Linked DNA regions of Homo sapiens: all the other regions are linked to region 2. Evidence: fine-mapped expression QTL. A gene starts in region 2. Each other region holds a variant in brackets. All regions are shown on one strand. Distances are between the middles of the regions. Region 1 overlaps TMLHE (trimethyllysine hydroxylase, epsilon). Region 2 holds the start of TMLHE (trimethyllysine hydroxylase, epsilon). Region 3 overlaps F8 (coagulation factor VIII).

What was found.
Region 1: its variant is fine-mapped to the expression of TMLHE in sigmoid colon (GTEx, PIP 0.96).
Region 3: its variant is fine-mapped to the expression of TMLHE in iPS cells (PhLiPS, PIP 0.95).

Annotation. Positions count from the first base shown.
Region 1 is chrX:155,556,659-155,564,845 of GRCh38, reverse strand. The region is part of intron 1 of TMLHE (trimethyllysine hydroxylase, epsilon); the gene reads left to right. Among named protein-coding and RNA genes, the nearest start is that of SPRY3, 52 kb to the left of the region's middle. The variant T/A (reference allele first, on the strand shown) is at 4,874.
Region 2 is chrX:155,609,544-155,617,730 of GRCh38, reverse strand. It overlaps TMLHE (trimethyllysine hydroxylase, epsilon), which reads left to right and starts at 4,779. Exons shown (of 8, transcript NM_018196.4): 1 at 4,779-4,939. It overlaps SPRY3 (sprouty RTK signaling antagonist 3), which reads right to left and starts at 5,145. Exons shown (of 3, transcript NM_001304990.2): 1 at 5,084-5,145.
Region 3 is chrX:154,932,844-154,941,030 of GRCh38, reverse strand. The region is part of intron 13 of F8 (coagulation factor VIII); the gene reads left to right. Among named protein-coding and RNA genes, the nearest start is that of MIR1184-1, 49 kb to the right of the region's middle. The variant T/GTT (reference allele first, on the strand shown) is at 5,050.

The DNA of each region.
Region 1 (8,187 bases), 53 kb after region 2:
ATACATAACTAGCCCATTGATGGTAAAGTATATGTTAGTGACTAGAGCAGAGGTTGACAACTGTCCACATTGGGGCTGAATATGGCTTGAAGATGTGTTTTTGGCTCATACTGTTGTGGCATTGTTGAATTTAGTCATTGTGATGCCCACCACAATGTGCCACTCATATCTCCTACTAAAGGGAGTATAGCTGACTGAGGGCCCAGCTGCTGTGTTCTATCATCCATCATTGTTTCTTTCTTCCAAGGCTACACTTCCCATCAACTGTTCCAAACTACTGAATGACCATGGCAAGAATACTAATGAGAGCCCATTCCTTGGAGACCCAGACTCCTTTAATGGCCACCTTTGGCTTGAGTATTCCCCAACAGCCTTCCTGAAACTTTCTTAGATCTGCATTGCAGTCTGAGACTGTGCTTCCTTCTTTCTGTCTTCCACAGGGATAGGACCTGTACCATGGTCTGATGACCCTCCAAGTCTAGACACTCTTCCCACTTCCCCTCACATATCTTTTCCCCAGTAAATTACTTGCACATCTATTTTTATCATGGCATCTGCTTTTTTAGAAGACCTGAACTAATACAGTTGTTGGCATTACAATTTGGGAGATTTCATATATAATCTGTATATCTGGCTCATTTCAAAAATTCTGAAGATTACAACACTAGGCCTATCTGTCCATAATCAGCTGGAACTAAGTAGTGGCTATGATTTTTGGACACTTCAGTTCACCCCTCTCTCTACAACACATTGTCTCTTATACTCGACTTATTTATGTTACTTGCCTAGCCCTTGTGAGCATTTAATTTTGAGTCCTTGAAAAAAAGGAACATTCTTTTAATTCATGCAATCCAACATATTATTTTGCTGATTGTGATGGAGAAAATGGCATAGACCCTGCTCTCATTGGAACATTTTCTTGTAATAAGGCAACCAGACATTAGCCAAACAATCACAGAAATAAAAACAAATAAACAAATAATTACAAGTTGTAATAAGTGCATTGAAGAATAAAAGGATCTATGAGAAACTAACAAATGTTAATCTTCTTTTCTCTGTCTATACCAATTCCTTTGGTAGTCTCATCCAGTCTCCTGACTTTAAATACCAACTATGGAACAACTGCCAAATTTGTATCTGCAGCTCATATCTCTCCCCTGAACTCAAGACTCATGTATCCAACTGCCTCTCTGATATTTCCACCTAAAAATCTAATAGACATCTCAAATTTAACAGATCCAAAACTAAAATTCTAATCTGTTTTTCCAAACATCCTCCAGCAGTCTTCCCCATCCTTTCAGTTTTTCAGTCCAAATACCTTGGGTTATCATTCATTCCTTGATATGGTTTGGCTCTGTTCCCCACTCCTGCTATCTCATCTCAAATTGTAATCCCCACATGTCAGAGGAGGGGCCTGATGGAAAGTGATTGAATCATGGGGGTGGACTTTCTCCTTGTTGTTCTCATGATTGTGAGTGAATTCTCAGGAGATCTGATGGCCTAAAAGTGTGGAACTTCCCCTTTTGCTCTGTCTGTCTCCTGCTACCATGTAAGGTGTGCATTGCTTCCCCTTTACCTTCTGCCATAATTTTAAGTTTCATGAGGCCTTGCAGCCATGCAGAACTGTGAGTCAATTAAACCTCTTTGTTTTACAAATCACCCAGTCTCAGGTAGTTCTTTATAGCAGTGTGAAAATGGACGAATACAGAAAATGGGTACCAGGAGAGTGGGACATTGCTATAAAGATAACTGAAAATGTGGAAGTGACTTTGGAACTGGATAGTGGGCACAGGTTGGAACAGTTTGGAGGGTTCAGAAACAAGAAGATGTGGGAAAGTTTGGAACTTCCTAGAGACTTGTTGAAGGGTTTTGACCAAAATGCTGATAGTGATTTGGACAGTGAAATCCAGGCTGAGATGATCTCAGATGGAACTGAGGAACTTAATGGGAACTGGAGTGAAGGCCACTCTTGCTATGCTTTAGCAAAGAGACTGGCAGCATTGTGCTCCTGCCCTAGAGATCTGTGGAACTTTGAACTTGAGGGAGATGATTTAGGGTATCTGGTGGAAGAAATTTCTAAGCAGCAAAGTGTTCAAGAAGTAACCTGGCTGTTCCTAACAGCATAGTGTTATATGCACCTGGGTGTTCCTAACAGCATACTGTCATGTGCATTCACAAAGAAATGGTCTGAAATTGGAACTTATATGTAAAAGGGAAGCAGAGCATAGAAGTTTGGCAAATTTGCAGCCTGAATATATGATAGAAAGGAAAAAACCAAAAAACCCATTTTCTGGGGAGAAATTCAAGCCTGCTGCAGAAATTTCCATAAGTAAAGAGAAGCCAAATGTTAATGGTCAAAACAATGAAGAAAATGTCTCCAGGGCATGTCAGAGACCTTTGCGGCAGCCCCTCCCATCACAGGCCCAGATGCCTAGGAGAAAAAAAAAAGGTTTCATGGGCCAGGCCCAGGGCCTCCCTGCTCTGTGCAGCCTTGGGAAATGGTGCCCTGCATCCCAGCCACTCCAGCTCCAACTGTGGCTTAAAGGGGCCATGGTACATTGCTTCAGAGGATGCAAGCCCCAAGCCCTGGTAATTGCCATGTGGTGTTGGGCCTGTGGGTGCACAGAAGGCAAGAATTGAGGTTTGGGAACCTCTGCCTAGATTTCAGAGCATGTATGGAAACACCTGGATGTCCAGGCAGAAGTCTGTTGCAGGGGCAGAACCATCATGGAGAACCTCTACTAGGGCAATGCAGAGGGGAAATATGGGGTTAGAGGCCCCACACAGAGTCCACACTGGGCACTGCCTAGTGGAGCCATGAGAAGAGGGCCACCATCCTCCAGACCCCAGAATGGTAGATCCACCAACAGCTTGCACTGTACACCTGGAAAAGCCACAGGCACTCAATGCCAGCTCGTGAATGCAGCCTCAGTGGCTGTACCCTGCTAAGCCACAGGGGCAGAACTGCTCAAGGCTGTGGGAGCACAACCCTTGCATCAGCATGCCCTGGATATGAGAAATGGAGTCAAAGGAGATTATTTTGGAGCTTTAAGATTTAATGGCTGCCCTGTTGGGTTTTGAACGTGTGTGGGGCCTGTGGCCCCTTTGTTTTGGCCAATTTCTCCCATTTGGAATGGGAGCATTTACCCAATGCTTGTACCCCCATTGTATCTTGGAAGTGACTAACTTGTTTTTGATTTTATGGGATCATAGCAGAAGGAACTTGCCTTGTGTCCGATAAGACTTTGGACTTGGACTTTTTAGTGCTGAAATGAGTTAAGACTTTGGGGGCTGTTGGGAAGGCATGATTGGGTTTGAAATGTGAAAAGGACATGAGATTTGTGAGGGGCCAGGGGTGGGATAATATGGTTTGGCTGTATGTCCCCACCCAAGTCTCATGTCTAATTGTAATCCCCAATGTTAGAGGAGGGGCCTGGTGGGAAGTGATTGAATCATGGCAGTGGATTTCCCCTTGCTGTTCTCATTATTGTGAGTGAGTTCTCATGAGATCTGATGGTTTAAAAGTGTGGCAATTCCCCCCACTCCTGCCATCATGTAAGACGTGCCTTGCTTTCCCTTCACCTTCTGCTGTGATTGTAAGATTCCTGAGGTCTCTCCAACCATGTAGAACTGTGAGTCAATTAAATGTCTTTTCTTTATAAATTACCCAGTTTCAGGTAGTCCTTTATAACAGTGTGAAAATGGACTAATACATTCCTCTTTATCTCACACCCCATTTTCAATTCATCAGCAAATCCTGTCGTTTTTGCCTTCAAAAAAACAGACTCTGACCCTTTTTCACCACTTTCACTGCTACTGCCTTAGTCTAAGTCACTATCATTTCTTGCCTGGATTACTTCAATAAATCCAGTACTGTAATAGCCTACTAACAGGTATCCCTCCTTTCCTTGGCCTGTTTACAGTTTATTCTCAATACAACAGCCAGAACAGTTCATTTAAAATGTGTCATCATGTTACCTATTAGTTTTAAAACCCTACAATGGTTCATCATTTCTATCAGAGTAAAAACTAAAGTTTTTATATATTAGCTTATAAGGCCCTACATGATCTGACCTGACCTATTTATTCCTACCTTTCTCACTTCATCTATTATTTTACTTCTTGCTTAGTGAGCTCCAGCTACAATGTTTTTTCTTTCTTTTTTTTTTCTTTTGGCCACAACAGATATAATCACAACTTAGAGCCTTTGCATTGGCTATCCCCTCTGCCTAGTCTACTTTACCCCAGATATCCTTATGACTAACTCCTCCTTTGATCAAATGTCATCTTTCTTAATGAGGCCTACCCTGACCACCATGTTTCAAAGTCCAACTTCCAGCACACTGCTTTATCCTGCTATTTTTTATAGCTTACTATATATAACTTATTATGTTTATACTTAATTATCTACCTTCTCCCACTAGAAGATAAACTTGAAAGCAAGACTTTTTGTCTTCTTTGTTCACTGGTATATCCCTAGTGCCTAAAACAATGTCTAGCACAAAGTAGACACCCGACAAATATTTGTTCAAATGATTAACTAATTAATTAGTTAATAAGAGTGTCAGCGAAGGTTTCTCAATGAATTGATATTTAATCTGAGACCTAAGGAACGAGCAGGAAGAATGAAGGGGAGAGCATGGTAAGCAGAGAAGGCAGTATATGTGATGGTCCTGACATGGGTGGGGCAAGATAGATTATGTAACGCCCTGAGTGCAATTGTAAAGAGATGGCTCAAACCTTTGCCTCTCCTCAAGGAGCTCATAGCAATTGAGGTAAGAAAAATAATTAAAGAAATGATTGTCATACATGTTTTAAGTGCACTAATAAGGTTATGCACAGAGACCTGTGAAAACACTGAGTAGGCAGTTGC[T/A]AACTCTTCCTAAGGGAGCTGGGAATATTTTACGAAGAAGGTGACATTTGAGCTAAGTCTTAGGCAGGAGAATGGCATGATGAAAGTGTTTTAAGAAGATTAATCTGGCAATAGTGTATGGACAATGGATTGGAATATGGATGGACTGAAGGCAAGGAAACCATCTAGTCTATGGCAATAGGCCAGGTATGAGGTGATGAAGGAATCTATAGGAATGGAAAGAGAAGGACAAATCTGAAAGACATTTGGAAGGAAAAATTGACAGGAGCTAAATGCACTCTTGGCTTTAAGCCTTTCAGGAGGTAATGCTTCTTCCTTAGTAATAACCATGAAAAGATTCAGATTGACCTATTATGTAATTGCCTACTCTGACTAGAATTTCTAGCTATGGCTGATCTCCAAAAGTTTCTGTTATTATGATTGATACTTTTTGGACCTTAATTTACATTACGATGGCTTTAGACTCTAAAGGTTGGGAAGCTCTCAAAAACATAATTTTGACAATGAAACAGCAAATTATTCTATTAAAGGAGAAAAGAGGAAAACCATGGGGCCACATAGGAAGTTTTACAATGAGTTCATACTTTCTTTTTTTTAAAAGATAATATATAAGAAATAGGAAAAAGGGCACAAACACAAGGATAAATATAACTGGTGACATGTGCCTAAAGGGTTAGTATTTGGAAGGATAAGGTCCAAAATTACCTCAGGCTTGTAGAAATGCATATTTGTAAAGACAACAAGAACAATATTTTAACTATACTCTCAGAAAGAAAAAGTACATGTGTCCTGGAATGGGTAAATTGTAACTCAGTTGATATTACTAAACTACTCTCAGTAATCGAAGGCATTAAGGAAAATAGGAAAGGTGCTTTAAGATTGGATTTATATAAATATATTACTGAGGCTAACAAAGAAAAAGGGGGAGTCTTCAATCTTCTAATCAGTGAGCTAAATGTCTCTTAAGTTAGCTTCTAAAACAAATTTTCAAATAAGCGAGTACTTAAAAAATTACAGTTATCAACAAAGCCATTCAACACAAACCTGGTTCTTATTTCTGACAAGGCTATTAGAGGTAGTTTATGGAAATATGGCAGACATAATTACATATCTTAAATGAATGAATGAAATTTCAGCAAGACTAATAAGTCATTTATGATAACCTTCTGGACAAGATAATATGGGTTATAAAAGTAATATAATTATGTATTAATTAATTAAATCACCATATTCAAAGAGTGCTGATTAACATATCATAGGCAAAGGATGAATTTTTTGATGATCTGCTGTATACCCTACCTTTGGATTGACCCAGTCAATATTATTTACTTAAGCAAAATATCTTAAGCAGACATTAAGATTAAGCAAACATTTTAGATTTAAAGGGGCTATGATGCTGGAAGAATAATAATTCAATTCAATTTTCACAAACATTTATGGAGTTCTGCTAAGTACTAGGAACCATGCTAGATGTTAGGGTATCAAAATGAATGAGACAGATAGGCCTTCCTATTGAGGAACATCCAGCATTATTAGGGGGAAAGACATATAAACATATCATTTCAACATAATGTATTAAGAAGAAACACATAAAGACTATTATGAGAGAACAAAAGAAAGCTACTGGTTTATTCTGGGAGTTTAGAGAAGACTTCTTAGATGAGATGATATCTAGACTGATTCTTAAAAGATGAATAAAAGGCAGAATAGGAAGGGAAGGGCTTCCAGTTTGAACAAAGAGCATGAACATGAGTTTCTTCAAATATGAAAGAACATGGTAAATCTGGGGTTAAGCAATAAAGTACAAGGAGGTAAGTAGCAGGAAGTTAGGCTGAGAGGTAGCTCAGAACCAGGTAGTAGAAGGCATTACATTAAGGACATTGGATTTTACATTGAAAAGCCTAGGGAGATATTCAAATGGAGTGACACACTGACATATTTTAGTTAACTCTTCCTACCATGTGCAAAAAGTTTGAAGGGAGGGCAAGAGTGGATAGGTCAATTAGAAGGCTGTTGCAGTCTTTAAGTGAGAAATAATGATGGGCCTGGACAGGCATGTTGGCAAGTAGAGATACACTACGGTGGGTGAAGTTTGAGAATCATTTAGGGGATAAAAGTTATCATGACTTGATAATTGACTGGGGGGAAAACTTTTTTTAATGAAGTATTGAGTTTGAAGCACTGATTTTTGAGTTACGCAACTGGTTGAATGAGACTAGAATTTACTGTGAGGAGGAACTCTGTGGGAGGAAACAGTTTAGGTGTAGGGGGGATCAGGATGTCATTAAAAGGTGCTTCATGAGGATAGGAATATTTTTGGTTGCTGATATATTTTCAGCACCTTTAACAGTGTCTGGCACCTAATATGTGTAAAGATCTGATATATGTGCAATAGGAGTCCTAGAAAAAAAGGAGAGAGAATGGTACAGAAACAATATTTGAAGACGTGATGATGAGGAATTTTTGAAAAGTAATACAGCATTGCATTATTTTTCTATAGCTGCATATCAAATTACCACAAACTTAGTGGTTTAAAACAACATCCATTTAGTAGCTAACAGTTCTATAGGTTGTTGCGGGAAGTGAGGGGCCCCAAACGGAGGGACCGGCTGAAGCCATGACAGAAGAACGTGGATTGTGAAGATTTTATAGACATTTATTAGTTCCCCAAATTAATACTTTTGTAATTTCTTATGCCTGTCTTTACTGCAATCTCTAAACATAAATTGTAAAGATTTCATGGACACTTATCACTTCCCCAATCAATACCCTTGTGATTTCCTAGGCCTGTCTTTGCTTTAATCTCTTAATCCTGTCAGCCGAGAAGGATGTATATCGTCTCAGGACCCTGTAATAATTGCGTTAACTACACAAATTGTACAGCATGTGTGTTTGAGCAATATGAAATGTGGGCACCCTGAAAAAAGAACAGGATAACAGCAGTTGTTCAGGGAATAAGAGAGATAACCTTAAACTCTGACTGCCGGTGAGCTGGGCAGAACAGAACCATATTTCTCTTCTTTCAAAAGCAAATGGGAGAAATATCGCTGAATTCTTTTTCTCAGCATGGAACATCCCTGAGAAAGAGAATGCGCACCTAGGGGTAGGTCTCTGAACTGGCCCCCCCGGGGCGTACCTGTCTCTTATGGTCGAGATTGCAGAGGTGAAATAAACTCCAGTCTCCCATAGCGCTCCCAGGCTTATTAGGAAGAGGAAATTCCTGCCTAATAAATTTTGGTCAGACCGGTTGATCTCAAAACCCTGTCCCCTGATAAGATGTTATCAACGACAGTGGTGCCCAAAACTTCATTAGC
Region 2 (8,187 bases):
GAAACCAAGAAGTTCTATAACTCCTCCTCTTTTTAAAGTTTTGCTGGAAACCCCAAGACATATGTTTACCCGTCCCAACATCTGCACAGATTGTCTTCTCTAATGCCTTGCTCCATAGATTTCAGATGCTTCTGCTACCCTGAGCTCTGATCTTTTCCTCCTTCGTTCAATGAGACTGCAAGCTCAGCTTGGAATCTAGCTCTTGATGCTGGGATCAGAAAATAGTCACCAGGCAAAGAGCTAAGGCAGTCTTGGGGCTTGATTTGTGAGTTTCTCTTTTCCTGGGGATCATAATCATGGGCTGACTATTGCTCAATATCTTTAAACAGTTTCCTTGCATATTTTATGCAGTTTTATGATGTTTCTAACGGCAAGAGTGCTGATCCAGTGTCATTCCCAACATAACTTTTTTTCCTGCTTAAATCAGTCAGCTTCAGCTTCTGTTGCATGCAACTAAGAACCTTGACTGATACAAGCCCCTATTTTATGCCATGTCCTATGATATGTGCTTGGCATTTATTATGTGATTTAATCTTAATTTAGAGAAATAATTCCATGTGGAAACTAGAGAAATGGGCAAGAAGCATTTCTAACAGTGAGGACAAGGTTGAGGAGAGGGAGGTTGCAGTGAGAGGAGCATTCTAGATGGAGGAAGAATGTATAAATGCACAAGGGAACCAGCATGCAAGAATTAAAGTATGAAATTTTTGTCATCTTCAAGGGAATTCTTCTGAGACCTTTATAAATTATCCTAATCCAATAAAACCACTATACATAGAATTTCCTCCATAAATACAGTAAAGTACAATTGTTTATATAGTAGGATATTACTGGACGGTTTTAACTTTCCCACCCCTATTAACATGGGTACTAATAAAATAACTAAGCATCCTAGTTTGCCCTGAACTGTTGTGGTTTTAGCACATTACAGGGAATTCCTCAGCCCCAGGAAAACTGAGAAAATTATCCTTTGGTATATGTGACATCGCTCACCTAGCTACAGTTGATTGGTCTTAGGTGGCCACCAGTCTCAAACTTGGCCAATAAATCCCTCATAGATTTATGGAGATAGGACCATAAAGGTCTATGGTAACCAGGGAGTGCCTCTCAGATCTTTCAAGGGAAAACCTACTATGAGGAGTGGAGTCAGCTAACAGTCTCCAGCTGGAGCACTTTTGGGATTATTTTTGCATCATTTGATCCAAGGCCATTCCCTTCCCAGGCATCTCCAGCCAATCTCTGAGCACAAGAGGTGTACTAGGGCTGTTTCTGTCTAACGCAGGATTCCTCTAATTAGCAGTCTCTGTTGGGGTGGTTGAGACTTCCATAGAGCTGTACTGTAATCTCCTCTTTATCTTGCCAGCCATTACCCACGATAGATCTGTAGATTTGCTTTTCAGAGGACCTGATATGGCTTAGTGTCTCTCTTCAGTGGTTGAATCTGTAATATGAAAATCTAGGAAGGTGTCCGTAACCGTATCTACTGTTACATGGACTTGGGAAACAAAAAGAGCTTGAGAGGAGTGGGGAGGAAAGCAAGGAAGGGAACGAGGGGATGAGAGAGAGAGAAGAGAGAGAGAAGAGAGAGAGAGAGAGAGAGGAGAGAGAGAGAGAGAGAGAGAGAGAGAGACCCCAGATAAATGTGCAGGGAAAAATAGGGGTAAAAGAATGATAGAGTCAATGTCACTGGAATCCTTGTTTTTGACGATTCTTGAGGCCTAACTATACCTTGCCTTTTTAAAAGTTTTGATTGTTCTAATCCTTCTTGAGTTCTGTGAAACACCTTATTATCTTCCCATAAATTTCTCTCTTTTGCTTGTTAGTTTCAGGTAGGTTTTGATAACTTTTAACTAATGAGTCCTAATTAATACTTCTTCACTGCAAAATTAATTGTATAGGTTACTACGTTTATGCTGAATCACATTTCTGTTGAGAGTCAGAAATGTTCATATCCCCAGAGTCAGAAATGTTCATAAACCGAAACACAAATTAATATACCCTTCAGCTTTACCAAATTTTTGTCCATGAATAGGTGAGGAAAATTTTGTATGGTCTAGATGATTTCTGAAAAGTTTTAGCATTTATTTGTTTCTCTATAGAATACCTAGCAGGATTCTTGTCATAGACCAAAGCTTCAGCCAAATTCAACATTGCACTGTGTCCAGAATATTTATTTTCTGGCTAAAAGTCACTACTTTTATAATAAATCTTCCTTCTTTAATTTTTTAACTCTTTCAAAGATCACTAGTAGTTCTTTTAAAGACCATCTTTGATAAATCGAAGTTCACAATCACAATTAACACATAGTTTTAACCACCTTTCAAGAACTCAAGGTTATGAATATGATTAGAGATCACTAAAGCTTCACTGAGAGGCTGATAAAACAAAGGTGTAGATGTTAGTCAAAGATGATGGCTCTCAGACATCATTTAATACAGTAGTCCATGCAAGAGATGGTGATAATTTGGCCTAGAGCAAGAGTCTAAAAATTATTGCCCACAGGGCAAATCCTGCCTCTTGCCTGTTTTTGTAAATAAACTTTTATTGGAACATACCTACACGCATTCATTTATGTATTGTCTGTGAATTCTTTCACTCTATGAAAGCAGAATTTAATACCTGGAGACAAAGACTGTATGTGACTCAAAAAGCCTAAAATATTTACCAGCTGACCCTTCACAGATAAAAAAAAAAAGCCAAACTCTGGTCCGGAATGTTAGCAGTACAGTGAGGGACAAATGCATGAGCAGATTATATTTTGGAAGCAGAACAAGAACAAGTTTGGTGTGTTCTAGGAACAGCTGGTGTGGCGGGAACATAAAAAGACCCAGATACTATTGTTTTTTTCTATTTTGTTTTCTAGCACATTTGTACCTATTGCTTTTATTCAGCTATTCATTCATTCCAAAAATATTAAGAAGTTCCACTCTGTGCCATACACCATGTGACCTGCTACACACACACACACAGAGAGAGGAAACAGTAAAATATCTGACTTTTATTTTATTACAAGTAAAATTTATATTTTATTAAAAGTAAAATATCCAGGCTCCCTAGAGTCTGGAGCCAAATTACCTAGGTTTGAATCTCAGCTCTGAAATTTATCTGCCATGTGATCCTGGTGAAAATTGCTTAACCTATCTGTGCCTCAGTTGCCTTATCCTTAAAGTAGAAATAATATCATCTACCTTAAGTGTTTGATATAAAACAAACACTTAGCCCAGTGTTTAGCATATAGTGCACATTTTATAAATGTTGGTTACTATTATTAAGGAAACTTGCTTCTTTTACTGACTCAAACAAACAGGTATTGTCTATCAACCTGTTGCCTTTTCTGAGTACTTTGTGTTGATTTCAGCTTAGCTTTAAGTGAGCTCATTCACTCTAATTGCTACAGTTATGATCTTCCTGTTACAGGACATTGGATCATGCTGTTCTTTCTGCCCAAAACTTTTTTTGTTTTCCCATTTGCCTGGCCAACTCCAATTTGTTCTTTAAACATAAGGGCATAAGGGCATGGACTATATCTGGGCTTTGTTTATCATTTTACACCCAGATCTTAGTACAGTGCCTGGCATACAGTAGGCACTCATTAATGTTTATTGCATGAATGAATACCAGCCAGACTAAATCTAGATTCTCATTGTACTTAGTTTTTCCTCTTTATGTTACATTCACACTCTGGATATGTCCTTTTGTTTACACACTGGTTCTAGAAATTTTTTAACAAATATTTATTAAATATATAGACATTTTAGACTCTGTGCTTGGAGAACAAATATGAAAAACACAAGTTTTCTGCTCTCAAGAAGCTACTTATTCATTAGAGGACAAAGACATGCAGAAAGAGAAATTATAATCTAGAGTAAGTGGTACTCTTGAGGCCTGTACGAGATCCATTGGGCATACTGGACCTAGGGAAAAAAAATATACAAACTTATCTGGGAAAGACAGGGAAGGCTTCACAGAGGAGGTGCTATCTAAATTGAGTCAAAAATAACGAGTAGCCGTTTTCCAAATAAACAAGTGCCGGGTAAGAGCATTCATGGCAGAAGGAATTCCAGGGCAAAGATGTGGAGGCTTTTTCTTCTTTTGTTGATCCTGACTTCTACAAACCAATTCCTTTATTGCTTTTTTGACATTAGATTAACACTTTTAATCTCGAATAAATATAATACTGCACAATTTCCCATTTTCAGTATATATGCATTTGATTTTTTTTGTTGTTCTTACTCTCATTTTTTAAATCTGCCTTGGATTTCCATTGCATATACTATTTCAGTATACTTTTTGGTCCTTCTTTGTAATATGTATCGTTCTTAAATTTTTACCTGCATAAGGTGTTCATTCCTAATGGGTATTCCCTTCTAGTGCTCACTGTATGTAGCACTGTATCTGGACCCTGGGTTCAAGATGCTCAGCTGAATCGATGGGAGTAATGAGCGGTATATGACTTCCATAAACTCAAGAAAATGGTGGAAAGGTAGTAGAATTTTACTTCTAGTAAACCTGGATAAACTACCATAAATAGAAGCGTAGTGGGAGGACTCGGGAGGAGCACTGAAATGGCAGGCAGGGGACCCAGGTTTTATAGCTTTATGGGCCTGTTTTTTCTCATCCCTGCACCTATAGCTTCAAGTATGTTCACTAAAGGCGATTGAATAGAGTGCCCCGGCCCAGTCCTTCCGAATGGGAGACTGACGCCCTAGCACCGGGCGAAGTCCCGGGCGCCAGAGGCACCCACCCTGCACGGCCGGAAGGAGTGGGGCGGGGCCTACAGGCTCTCCGCTGGGCCCGAGCGGGCTGGGGGAGGGGAGCGTGGGGCCGACAGTTTTGGGGGTGAAAAGGCAAAAGGCGGGTGAAAGGCTGCCTCCCGAGACTCTCCTTGCTTGGAATTCTGCCCACTCTGCGGAGTTAGCAGTCACGACCTCCAGCACAGGTGGGTTCCGTCCCGTGGGTCAGGGAAGGGGTGTCCCCATGGGTGCTACGGGTGGGTTTACCCAGGCGCTCGCTTTCAGGCCTGTCGCAGTGGGCGGCGGAGGCTCTCACCCGGGCTGCTGGGCCCAAGGGCGGTGGTACTCACCTTAACCCTGGCGGAGAGGAAGGCCACTCCTGCCTTGCCGCAGGGTTGTCGTCACGATCTGTGCCAGTTGCGCGACAGAGTCTGCCCGGAGATCAGCGTGAGGCCGGATGGGCCTAGCGCTCAGGAAGAGCTGGAAGAGCTGGAGCAAGCTCGCGTTGGGACTGACGCCCAGTGTACATTGTTTCAATCTCGGTCGGACTTTACAGCCCTGGATCTGTCACTGACTTGGTGTTTAGCTTTCAGCGAGTCCCTACCCTCTTCCTGCCTCACTTTGTTCGGCAGTAGAGTGGAAGGTGGAACTCAGCTGTCTGCAAGATCTTGCAGCACTTTCTTTCGTTCTCATATCCACTAATGTTCTCTGCCCAGATTTTACCCTTTGTCTGCCCCCTCTGGAGCAAGGCTCTGGGTAAGTAAGTTAGGCTAGGAAGTTTTCTTTCTCTTCCGAAAACAATGGAAAAGCCTTTAAATACTCCTGACTGCCCTGGAAACGACATTCAAACCATTAATTGAATGTCAACTCTGAAGAATGGGTTTGTGAATGCCATACTATTAAACGTTTTAACCAGATGATTGCCTAAAATGATGTGTGTTGAGTGGACATAGTACACTGCCTAGCAAAAGTCTCATGATAAATGAGTTGCGTGCTTTAACTCAGTCGCTGAAAGAAAAACTTGAGCTCTCATATTTAAGAAACACTTTCATAATCCACTCCCATACAGTAGTAGTCTTTTAGAGTTGCTTGTAGCTTGGTTTGCCCTTTCAGGACACACTGTAGTAAAAATTACATACAGTTTATTTTACATTAACTATAAAGACAAAGAAGGACTATAAACATTATGGATCAACATTTTGGTGTCAACTTCTGGTTTCTCCTCATTAAGGAACTGGTGGTAATGATAATGGTGAACATATATTTTGCAAAATACTATAATTTTCACAACAACCAGAAGACGTTAAGTAAGGTTATTTATAATAAGGCTTAAAAAACTTATACTTTATCTCATAACCAGTGTGATGAAGGGAATGTTTACTGGGGTGGTTGAGTCTGGGGGCTTGTTTAGTGTGCCCCACCTAGTTCTTTATTTCTTGGAAGCTTGGACTGGAACAGATCACTTCCTTGTTTTGGCCTCTGTTTCAGGAACCACCATTTGTTCTGTATTTCTGCTTGTCAACCCTGGGAACAACAGTAAAACCAGCCAAGTGGATCACTGGGTGTTTACAATGTTTCTGACAGCTGTATCTGATGCCTCCAGGGGCTGGGAGGGGGACCCCAGGATTAACAAACCTCTTTGGTGGGAAGAGTCTCTTCCTGCAAACTGAACACGGATCCATCAGTTGGGCACCACTGTGATCCCCTTTCTATAATACCAAGCATCCCCTGGGCTCATATGGGCTGTACATGCACCTGCCATTGCCCTGTGTAAAGATTTACAGGATAAGAGGCTCTTGAAAAAACCCAGCCTGCTCCATACCTGTAGGTTCTAGGGAAGGAGTGGCTGATATGTAGGTGAGTGTTCTTCTGGATGAGGAAAATACCTCATGATTTCCCAAATGGTTTGAAAGGTGAGAAAAAAATTATGCTGGATATCTGCTGAGCCAACCTGAAGGGTGAGTTTTGCATTGGCTATTTGGCAGGACCTGGTGTCTGCCTTGTTTAGCTATATTTTCACTCTATTCATCATACTCTGTTCATTCACTCCAAAGGCAATCAATGAATGTCAACTCTGTGCCAGGATGCTGATCCATTCACTGAGATTGGCAGCACAGGACAGCCAGTTCGGGAGGACAACAGGAATTCAACTTTAAGCATACTCAGTCTGAGGCCTCCTCACCTTTCCCCACTCCCTATATCTAACTGCTACAAAATCTTGTCACTTCTACATCCTGAATATTTTAAAAAATCCATCCACTTCTCTTTGTCCCATGACTACTCCAAATTTCAAGCCAGCAATATTCTTTTTTAATTGATTTAAAAATTTTTATTTTAAAAGACCAAATGGTTGCATGACCCTCGACTCTCATGGGAAAACCACAACCCACCACCACCACAGCAACAACAACAAACAGCCTAATGACCTCTGTATGATCCCTAATAAATTGTCAAAGTAAGGAGATGAAAGTTCTCTTTTTTTCTTGATGCTCACAGTGTTTAAATATTGTATTTAGGATAATTTACATGCCATAAAATTTGCATATTTAAAGTGATTTTATAAATTTATTGGGTGGTGCAACCATCACTACAATCTAATTTTAAAACATTTGCATCACGTCAGTGACATCTTCCTTGCCCATCTGCAGTCAGTCTTCATTACTACTCCCAGCATCAGACAACCACTAATCTACTTTCTGTGCCTATGGATTTGCCTATCCTGAAAATTTCATCTAAATAATGTCTCCAAAGTTTATTAATGTTGTGGCATATATAAATACTTCATTCCTTTTTATAGCTGAGTAATATTCCATTGCATCAGTATACTACATTTTGTCTATCTAGTCATCAGTTGATGAACACTTGGATTGTTTCTATCTTTTGGCTATTATGAATAAAGCTGCTATGAACGTTTGTGTGCAAGTTTTTGGGTGGACATTCGTTTTCAATTCTCTTGGTTAAACACCTATGAGTGGAATTACTTGGTCATATTATAACTGTATGTTTAATTTTCTGCCAAACTGTTTTCCCAAGGGGCTGTACTATTTTACAGTTACTAGATTTATATGAACCACCAGCAATGTATTTCTTCACATCATCACCATATTTGTTATTTCCCCGTTTTGTTTTGTTTTTTTCAAATGTGTAGCTATTCTTGAGGGTGTGGAGAAGTATCTCATTGTGATTTAGATTTGCATTTCCTTAATGGCTAATTGAGCATCTTTTTATTTGCTTGTTAGATATTTGTATATGTTCTTTGGAGAAATGTCTCCTCACATATTTTGCCCATTTCTGATTAGGTTGTTTGCTTCCTTACTATTGAGATGTAAGAGTTGCTTATATACAAGTCCTTTATCAGATATGTAGTTTGAAAATATTTTCTCCAAGTCTGTGGTTTGTCTTTTCATTTTCTTACTACTGTATGTTGAAGGGCAAAGGTTTTTATTTATTTTAC
Region 3 (8,187 bases), 680 kb after region 2:
TTTCCATGTTTAGTGCTTCCTTCAGAAGCTCTCTTAGGTCAGGCCTGGTGGTGACAAAATCTCTCAGCATTTGCTTGTCTGTAAAGGATTTTATTTCTCCTTCACTTATGAAGCTTAGTTTGGCTGGATATGAAATTCTGGGTTGAAAATTCTTTTCTTTAAGAATGTTGAATGTTGGCCCCCACTCTCTTCTGGCTTGTAGAGTTTCTGCCGAAAGATCAGCTGTTAGTCTGATGGGCTTCCCTTTGTGGGTAACCCGACCTTTCTGTCTGGCTGTCCTTAACATTTTTTCCTTCATTTCAACTTTGGTGAATCTGACAATTATATGTCTTGGAGTTGCTCTTCTCAAGGAGTATCTTTGTGGCATTCTCTGTATTTCCTGAATTTGAATGTTGGCCTGCCTTGCTAGATTTGGCAAGTTCTCTTGGATAATACCCTGCAGAGTGTTTTCCAACTTGGTTCCATTCTCCCCATCACTTTCAGGTACACCAATCAGTTGTAGATTTGGTCTTTTCACATAGTCCCGTATTTCTTGGAGGCTTCGTTTGTTTCTTTTTATTCTTTTTTCTCTAAACTTATCTTCACACTTCATTTTATTCATTTCATCTTCCATTGCTGATACCCTTTCTTCCAGTTGATCGCATTGGTTACTGAGGCTTGTGCATTCATCACATAGTTCTCGTGCCGTGGTTTTCAGCTCCATCAGGTCCTTTAACCACTTCTCTGCATTGGTTATTCTAGTTGTCCATTCGTCTAATTTTTTTTCAAAGTTTATAACTTCTTTGCCATTGGTTCGAACTTCTTCCTTTAGCTCGGAGTAGTTTGATCTTCTGAAGCCTTCCTCTCTCAACTCATCAAAGTCATTCTCCATCCAGCTTTGTTCCATTGCTGGTGAGGAGCTGCATTCCTTTGGAGGAGGGGAGGTGCTCTGATTCTTAGAGTTTTTGGTTTTTCTGCTCTGTTTTTTCCCCATCTTTGTGGTTTTATCTACCTTTGGTCTTTGATGATGGTGACGTACAGATGGGTTTTCGGTGTGGATGTCCTTTCTGTTTGTTAGTTTTCCTTCTAACAGTCAGGACCCTCAGCTGCAGGTCTGTTGGAGTTTGCTGGAGGTCCACTCCAGACCCTGTTTGCCTGGGTATCAGCAGCAGAGGCTGCAGAACAGCAGATATTGGTGAACTGCAAATGCTGCTGCCTGATCATTCCTCTGGAAGTTTTGTCTCAGAGGAGTAGCTGGCCATGTGAGGTGTCAGTCTGCCCCTACTGGGGGGTGCCTCCCAGTTAGGCTACTCAGGATTCAGGGACCCACTTGAGGAGGCAGTCTGCCCGTTCTCAGATCTCAAGCTGCGTGCTGGGAGAACCACTACTCTCTTCAAAGCTGTCAGACAGGGACATTTAAGTCTGCAGAGGTTATTGCTGTCTTTTGTTTGTCTGTGCCCTGCCCGCAGAGGTGGAGCCTACAGAGGCAGGCAGGCCTCCTTGAGCTGTGGGGGGCTCCACCCAGTTCGAGCTTCCCGGCCGCTTTGTTTACCTACTCAAGCCTGAGCAATGGCGGGCACCCATCCCCCAGCCTTGCTGCCACCTTGCAGTTTGATCTCAGACTGCTGTGCTAGCAATGAGCAAGGCTCCATGGGCGTAGGACCCTCTGAGCCAGGTGCAGGATATAATCTCCTGGTGTGCCGTTTGTTAAGCCCGTTGGAAGAGCGCAGTATTAGGGTGGGAGTGACCCGATTTTCCAGGTGCCATCTGTCACCCCTTTCTTTGACTAGGAAAGGGAATTCCCTGACCCCTTGTGCTTCCTGGGTGAGGCGATGCCTCGCCCTGCTTCGGCTCACGCACAGTGCACTGCACCCACTGTCCTGCACCCACTGTCCGGCACTCCCCAGTAAGATGAACCCGGTACCTCAGTTGGAAATGCAGAAATCACCCGTCTTCTGCATCACTTATGCTGGGAGCTGTAGACTGGAGCTGTTCCTATTCGGCCATCTTGGCTCCCAATGCAAAGACCTTCAAACAACGTGACTTCATTTTCTCACTCCTACCTTTTGTGCTCTTGTCATTTATTTGAATTCTACATATATTTTAAACCCCATAAGACATTATTATTGTTTTATATAATCAATATCATTTATATATATATATATATTTACACCTTTCATTTCTTTCATTCTTTTCTGCATTTCTTGCTTCCATCTATGATCATTTTCTTTTTGTCTGAAGAAACTTCTTTGGAACTTCCTTCAGTGTGTGTTGGCTAGTAAAAAGTTCTCTGTCAGTTTTTGGTCAGAATGGGTCTTTATTTTGCCTAGATACAAGTCCTTGGTTGGATTTACATATTGTGAATGTTTTCTCCCAGTCTGTGGTTTGTCTTTTCACTCCTTTAAGGGTGCATTATGGTTAATAGAAGTTCTTACATTTAATTAATTCTTATTTTTCAGTTTTTTATGGTTAATGCCTTTTGTATTCTGTTTCAGAAATTTTTGCCTATCCTAAGAACATGATGCCATCCTTCTATATTTTCTTTCTACATATTTTAAATATTTTCTTCTAGAAGTCTGATTGCTGTGTTGTTCACAATTAAGTTTATGATTCATTTTTAATTAATTTTGATGGAGTGATGCAGATAAAAGTTCATTTTTCCATATGGATATTTAATTGCTCTAGCACCAATTGTTGGAAAAAAATAATTTCCTCACTGAATTGCACTGTTGTCTTTGCCATGAATCTGATGACTGTATCACTGTAGCTTTGTTTCTGTACTCTATTTCAGGGGTAGGTTATGATCCACAAGCCAAATTTGCAGCTTGTTTTTATATGGCATTGAGCTAAGAATTTTTTTACATTTTTAAAGAATTGTCACACAAAACAAAAAAAAAGCAAAAAAACAAATAAGGATATGTATCATGGACCATATGTGTCTACAAACCTAAAATATTTACTATGTTGCTTTTTACAGAAAAAGTTTGCCAACCCCTGATCTCTTATATTCCATTGACTTATTGGTCTATCTTTGTACCAGTAACATACTATCTTATAGTAAGTTTTAATATTTGTTAGTATAATTCCTCCAACTTTGCTCTCTTTGATTTTTATATAAATTTTAGAATCATCTTGTCAATTTTATCAATAAAAATATCTTCTGAGGTTTTGATAGGGATTACATTGATTCTGCAGATCAATTTGGGGGAGCATACCTCTTGACAATATTGAGTATTCCTGTCCATGAGCATGGTTTAGTTATTTATTTACATCTTTTAAATTTTCTCTTGGCAATGTTTTTGTAAAATTTTAGTGTACAGGTCTTGCACATTTTTGTAAAGTGTATTCTTTGGTATTTAATGCTATTATAATATTTTTTATGGTATCAGTTTTTGTCAATTGTGTTTTTCTAGAAATATGTCCCTTTCATCTAAGTTGTTTAATTTACTTGAAGTAAGTTATTTGTAATGTTCTTTTATCATCCTTATAATGTCTGTACTGATGTCTCCGTTTTCATACCTGATATTGTTATTTATATTTTATCTATTTTAAGTTTATCGCCTGCACCCACTAACTCGTCATCTAGCATTAGGTATATCTCCCAATGATATCCCTCGCCCCTCCCCCTAGTGCACATGTACCCTAAAACTTAAAGTATAATAAAAAAAAAAAGTTTGTCGCCTTTGTTATAGGTTCATCAAATTTACTAATCCTACCATAGGATCAAATTTTTGCTTTGTTCATCAGGTCATGGAATTAAAAAAATTTTTTTGTTTTGTTTATTTTCTATGTTGAATTTTTATTTTTATTTTGCTTTGCATTTCATTTATTTCTGGTCTTTTGTTATTATTCCAATACTTTCTCTGGATTCAGTTTTCTTTTTCTTCTTGACTTCTTGAGATTAAAACTTGGTTCATTGATTTTCAACATTTCTTACTTTTTAAAAGTTCATACAAAGCATAAATTTCCCTTTATATACTGCTTTAACCCCATATCACAAATTTTGATGAGTCATATTTTTATTATCATTGAGTTTAAAATATTTTATAAATTTTACGTTATTTCTTGTTTTATTCATAGTTATTTTACAGTGTTTTACTTAATTTCCCAATATATGGCGATTTTCTGGCTCTCTCTCTGTTGCTGATTTATTTGTTTTACTGTGATCACATAACATACTCTATATTATTTCAATCATTTGAAATTTGTTGAGACTTGCTATATGCCCAGTGAATAATTTAATTTGATTAATGGCCCACTGCATTTGAAACAAATATGTCTTTGCTGTTATTGGGTAGAGTGTCATATATTTGCCTATTATGTCAAGTTGCTTTATCATGTTTTTAAAATCCTTATAAACTTCCTGATATTTTATCTGTTTCTTACAGACATGGAGGAAACTGTGACATCTCTGTGATTGTTGAGTTTGTTATTTTGATTTTTGTATTTGTTAGTAAGAATGTTTCAAAATAAATGAGGCAATATAAAATCAGGTGCTTACAACTTTAAGGTTGTATTCTTATTAAATCAATTCTTTCATCTTTGTGAAATGTCCTTTTTGTCTGAAGTAGTACTTGTTGCCTTAAACGTCTGCATTGTCTAAAATTTATACACCTGCACTATCATATTTATTTTGCTTAATGTTTGTGTGGTATATATTTCCCATTCTTTTCTTTTCAACCTATCTCTATCCTTATATTTACAGTGTGTCTTTTTTAACATTTTCTGTAGTGCAAGTCTGTTGGTTAATTAATTTTGTCAGTTTTTGCTTCTCTGAAAAGTCTTTATTTCTGTTTTTGAATTATATCTTCACTGTGTATAGAATTCTGGGTTTGTGGTTGTTGTTTTTGTTTTATTACATTTTGTTTTATTGGTTTTTCCCTCAGCACTTTAAAAATGCCGCTCCATTGTTTCTACTTGCATAGTTTTTCACAATAAGTTTGTTGTAATTCCCATTTGCATTCAACTGTACATAATGTATCTTTTTAAAAAAATCTGGATGGCTTCAAGCTCTTTACTTTGATTTTTGTGTGTGTGTGTGTGTGTGTGTGTGTGTGTGTGTGTGTGTGT[T/GTT]ACTTTGGCATTCTCTAGGCTTATTCAATCTGTAATTTGGTATCATTAATTTTGAAAAATATTTATCATCTGTGTCTTCAAATATTGCTTCTAATTCTTTCTCTTCTTCTGGTATTGCATTTACATATATTATACTGTTCAATTTTGTCACACAGCTCTTGAATATGCTGTTCTAGTTTGTTTTCTAACTATTTTTCCTTCTAGTTGTTCAGTTTTGTTGACATTTATTGACCTATTTTTACTTCAGTAATTGTTTCCTGGGTTGTTGAGTTAATTGATGAACTCATAGATGACATACAATTTATCTTTTTATTCTTGTGTCACTTGTGCTTTTGATGTCACATCTAGGAAGGCTTTGTCTAGCCCAAGGCCACATTTACTTCCATATTTTCTTCTAAGAGTTTGATAGTTGTAGCTGTTACATATATGTCTATGATCTAGTTTGAATAAATTTTTGTGTATGGTGTGAAGAAGAGGTCTAACCTCTTTTTTATTTTTTGCATGTAAACATCCAGTTGTCCCGGCACCATTTGTTGAAAATATGATTCTTTTCCCATTAAGTCATCTTGACACCCTTGTTGAAAATCAATTGACCATAAATGTGAGAGTTTATTTCTGAACTCTCCATTCTGTTCCATTGACCCATACGTCTTCTATAAATTCTTATAGCTAATTCTACATTAGACTTTGGTTTTTCAGATGTGGTCATCTCATTAGATTATGGTGATATGTTTGGTTACAAGTTTTATCTTCTCCTTGGCAACATTTTTTTTATTACTGCTCTTCTTTTATTCGTTTTTGTTGTTCCTTTCTCTTTTTGTGAGACAGGGTCTCACTCTGTTGCCCAGGGTGGAGTAAGTGGTGTGATCATGGCTCACTGCAGCCTCAACCTCCTGGGCTCAAGCAATCCTCCCACCTCAGCCTCCCAAGTAGTGGGACTACAGGCATGCACCATCATGCCAGGCTAACTTTTTTATTTTTTGTAGAGACAGGGTCTTGCTTTGTTGCCCAGGCTGGTCTTGAACTCCAAGCTCAAGCAATCCTCCAACCTCAGCTTCCCAAAGTGCTGGGATTACCAGTATGAGCCACTGCACCTGGCCTTGTTGTTCCTTTCTTCCTTTTATCTTGTAGTATCTTGATCCTTTTTGCTTATTATTTATCATTGAGGTGAGTTTGTTCTAAATAAACTTTTCGCAGAAAGTTTATGTAGATATATTAATATCAATGAGGCATTAGGAGTGAGTTTTAGATTAGCAGGAATTCTCTTATGAAAGGTATTGATTGTATGTGTGAGTTTTCAGCCTTTACTTCTCTCCAGCCCATCAAGATCAAAGCTGCAGAGTTGTTTACATTTCAGAATTTCTTTCCTCCCCTCCCCACCTTGCAAAACAGACTTACAGTGCAAAAATGACTTGTCAATGTGATTCTTTCTTCTGGTCCCATCTTTCCTACCTTTTGAGACTTGTGTTGAAAGGAGTCCAGTAAAACCACCGATGCTAGCTTGTATACCCTGATCCCATTGTTATAATGAATGACTGACTGTTTTTCATATCAAAGTATAATACTTGCACCTTGATAGAAGAAAGAAACAAGGCCAGGCACAGTGGTTCATGCCTGTAATCCCAGCACTTTGGGAGGCTGAAGTAGGAGGAATAATTAGACTTTGATATTAAAAATGGGGAAGATATGGCGGTATAAGATATGAGGAAGTATGTCTTCTTGGACTTTTCTGAAATCTGCCAGCCATGAGCATCCACTCTTTTTATCTTTTGATACCTGTTTTATATTAACTATACTTCTATTTTGTGGTTTCATGGCTTCAGATATCTTCCAGCTTAATTGTACTCTGTCTTTAATTATTTGCAGCAATTTCTGAAAGGAGCAAGAAGAAAGGCCAGCCCTTTCTTCACTACCTTAAAAACTGGTCATCTTTTGAAACCCCATGAAAGGCACAGTGGGTGACCATCTACATCAGGAGTGGGCAAACTATGGCCCTTGGGTAGTCTGGTCTCTGTCCGTTTTTGTAAGGTTTTATTGGAACCCATACACACACAAACTGATCATCTCTTGTTATGTGTTAAGTTTTCTTATAATTATTCTTTTCTATTTCATCCAGCTGAATTACCATTTCACCTTGTGTATGCCCTTTCCAGTCTTAAATTATAGAAGCTATGTCTTTGTGGTTTTAAATTATGGAAGCTGTGCCTTCTTGTGTTTTAGTATGGCAAGATATTTGTTCTTACTTTTCCTCTAGAATCTGCAGTGGATTACTTTCAGAAGTAGGTATTGCCTCTAAGTTTCCTGACTTCTGTTTCCTTCTCCCTGTTCTGTAGTATATTTATAGATTGCATGTTTTCTCGTCCTTAAACAAGGTACAAATATGTTCTGATCAAGGTTTGCTAGCCGAGAGGATAAGTGGCTTGCTCTTAGCCTAACTCTCTGTCTACTTAATGGATGTCGAATTCCCTTCTCAACTCAACAGCTAGTAACTAGTTCCAAGATCGGATAATAGCTTACAGAATTAATTAGTTCAGTGAAAGCCCTGGTTTGATCACAGAGGCAGGAGACTGATCTATATATTTGTAGTGCTGACTAGACCCCAACTTGGCCAGATAGCTTATACCTATGTCAGAAGTTGGAGGAGGAGATTGACAGCTGAGGTGTCTCCAAGGGAATTACAATTATTTTCATTTTCTTTGTGTCTGTAATTATGTCTCTTTTCTTACTTCAAATTTTGTATATGTGAAATTTCTTAATTTTTATTTGGTTATTTATTTTATTGACTTTTTCATCAAACAACCAACTCTAAGTTCTTGGATTGAAATTTATGAATTAATTATAATGTTTTAAATTTACCATTAGTCACACATACAATACAAAAAGATATTTTCATTACAAAATTTTAACCCAAGCCATTAAAACTAAACTCCAGCTTGGTCACCATTCCTAATACCAGGCCCCTCTCAGAGGGGAGGGTAAATAAAAGTCCATTTTGGTAACTAGTTTGACGAGAATCTCTAATTGTTTCCCTGTTTTTCTTATAATGTCTGCCTTTGAATTATCCTCTTTTTTTCAAGAGTTCCATCATATAATGTATTCCTTTTTGCTTACAGATTGACCTCCTAGAGGCATGCATCC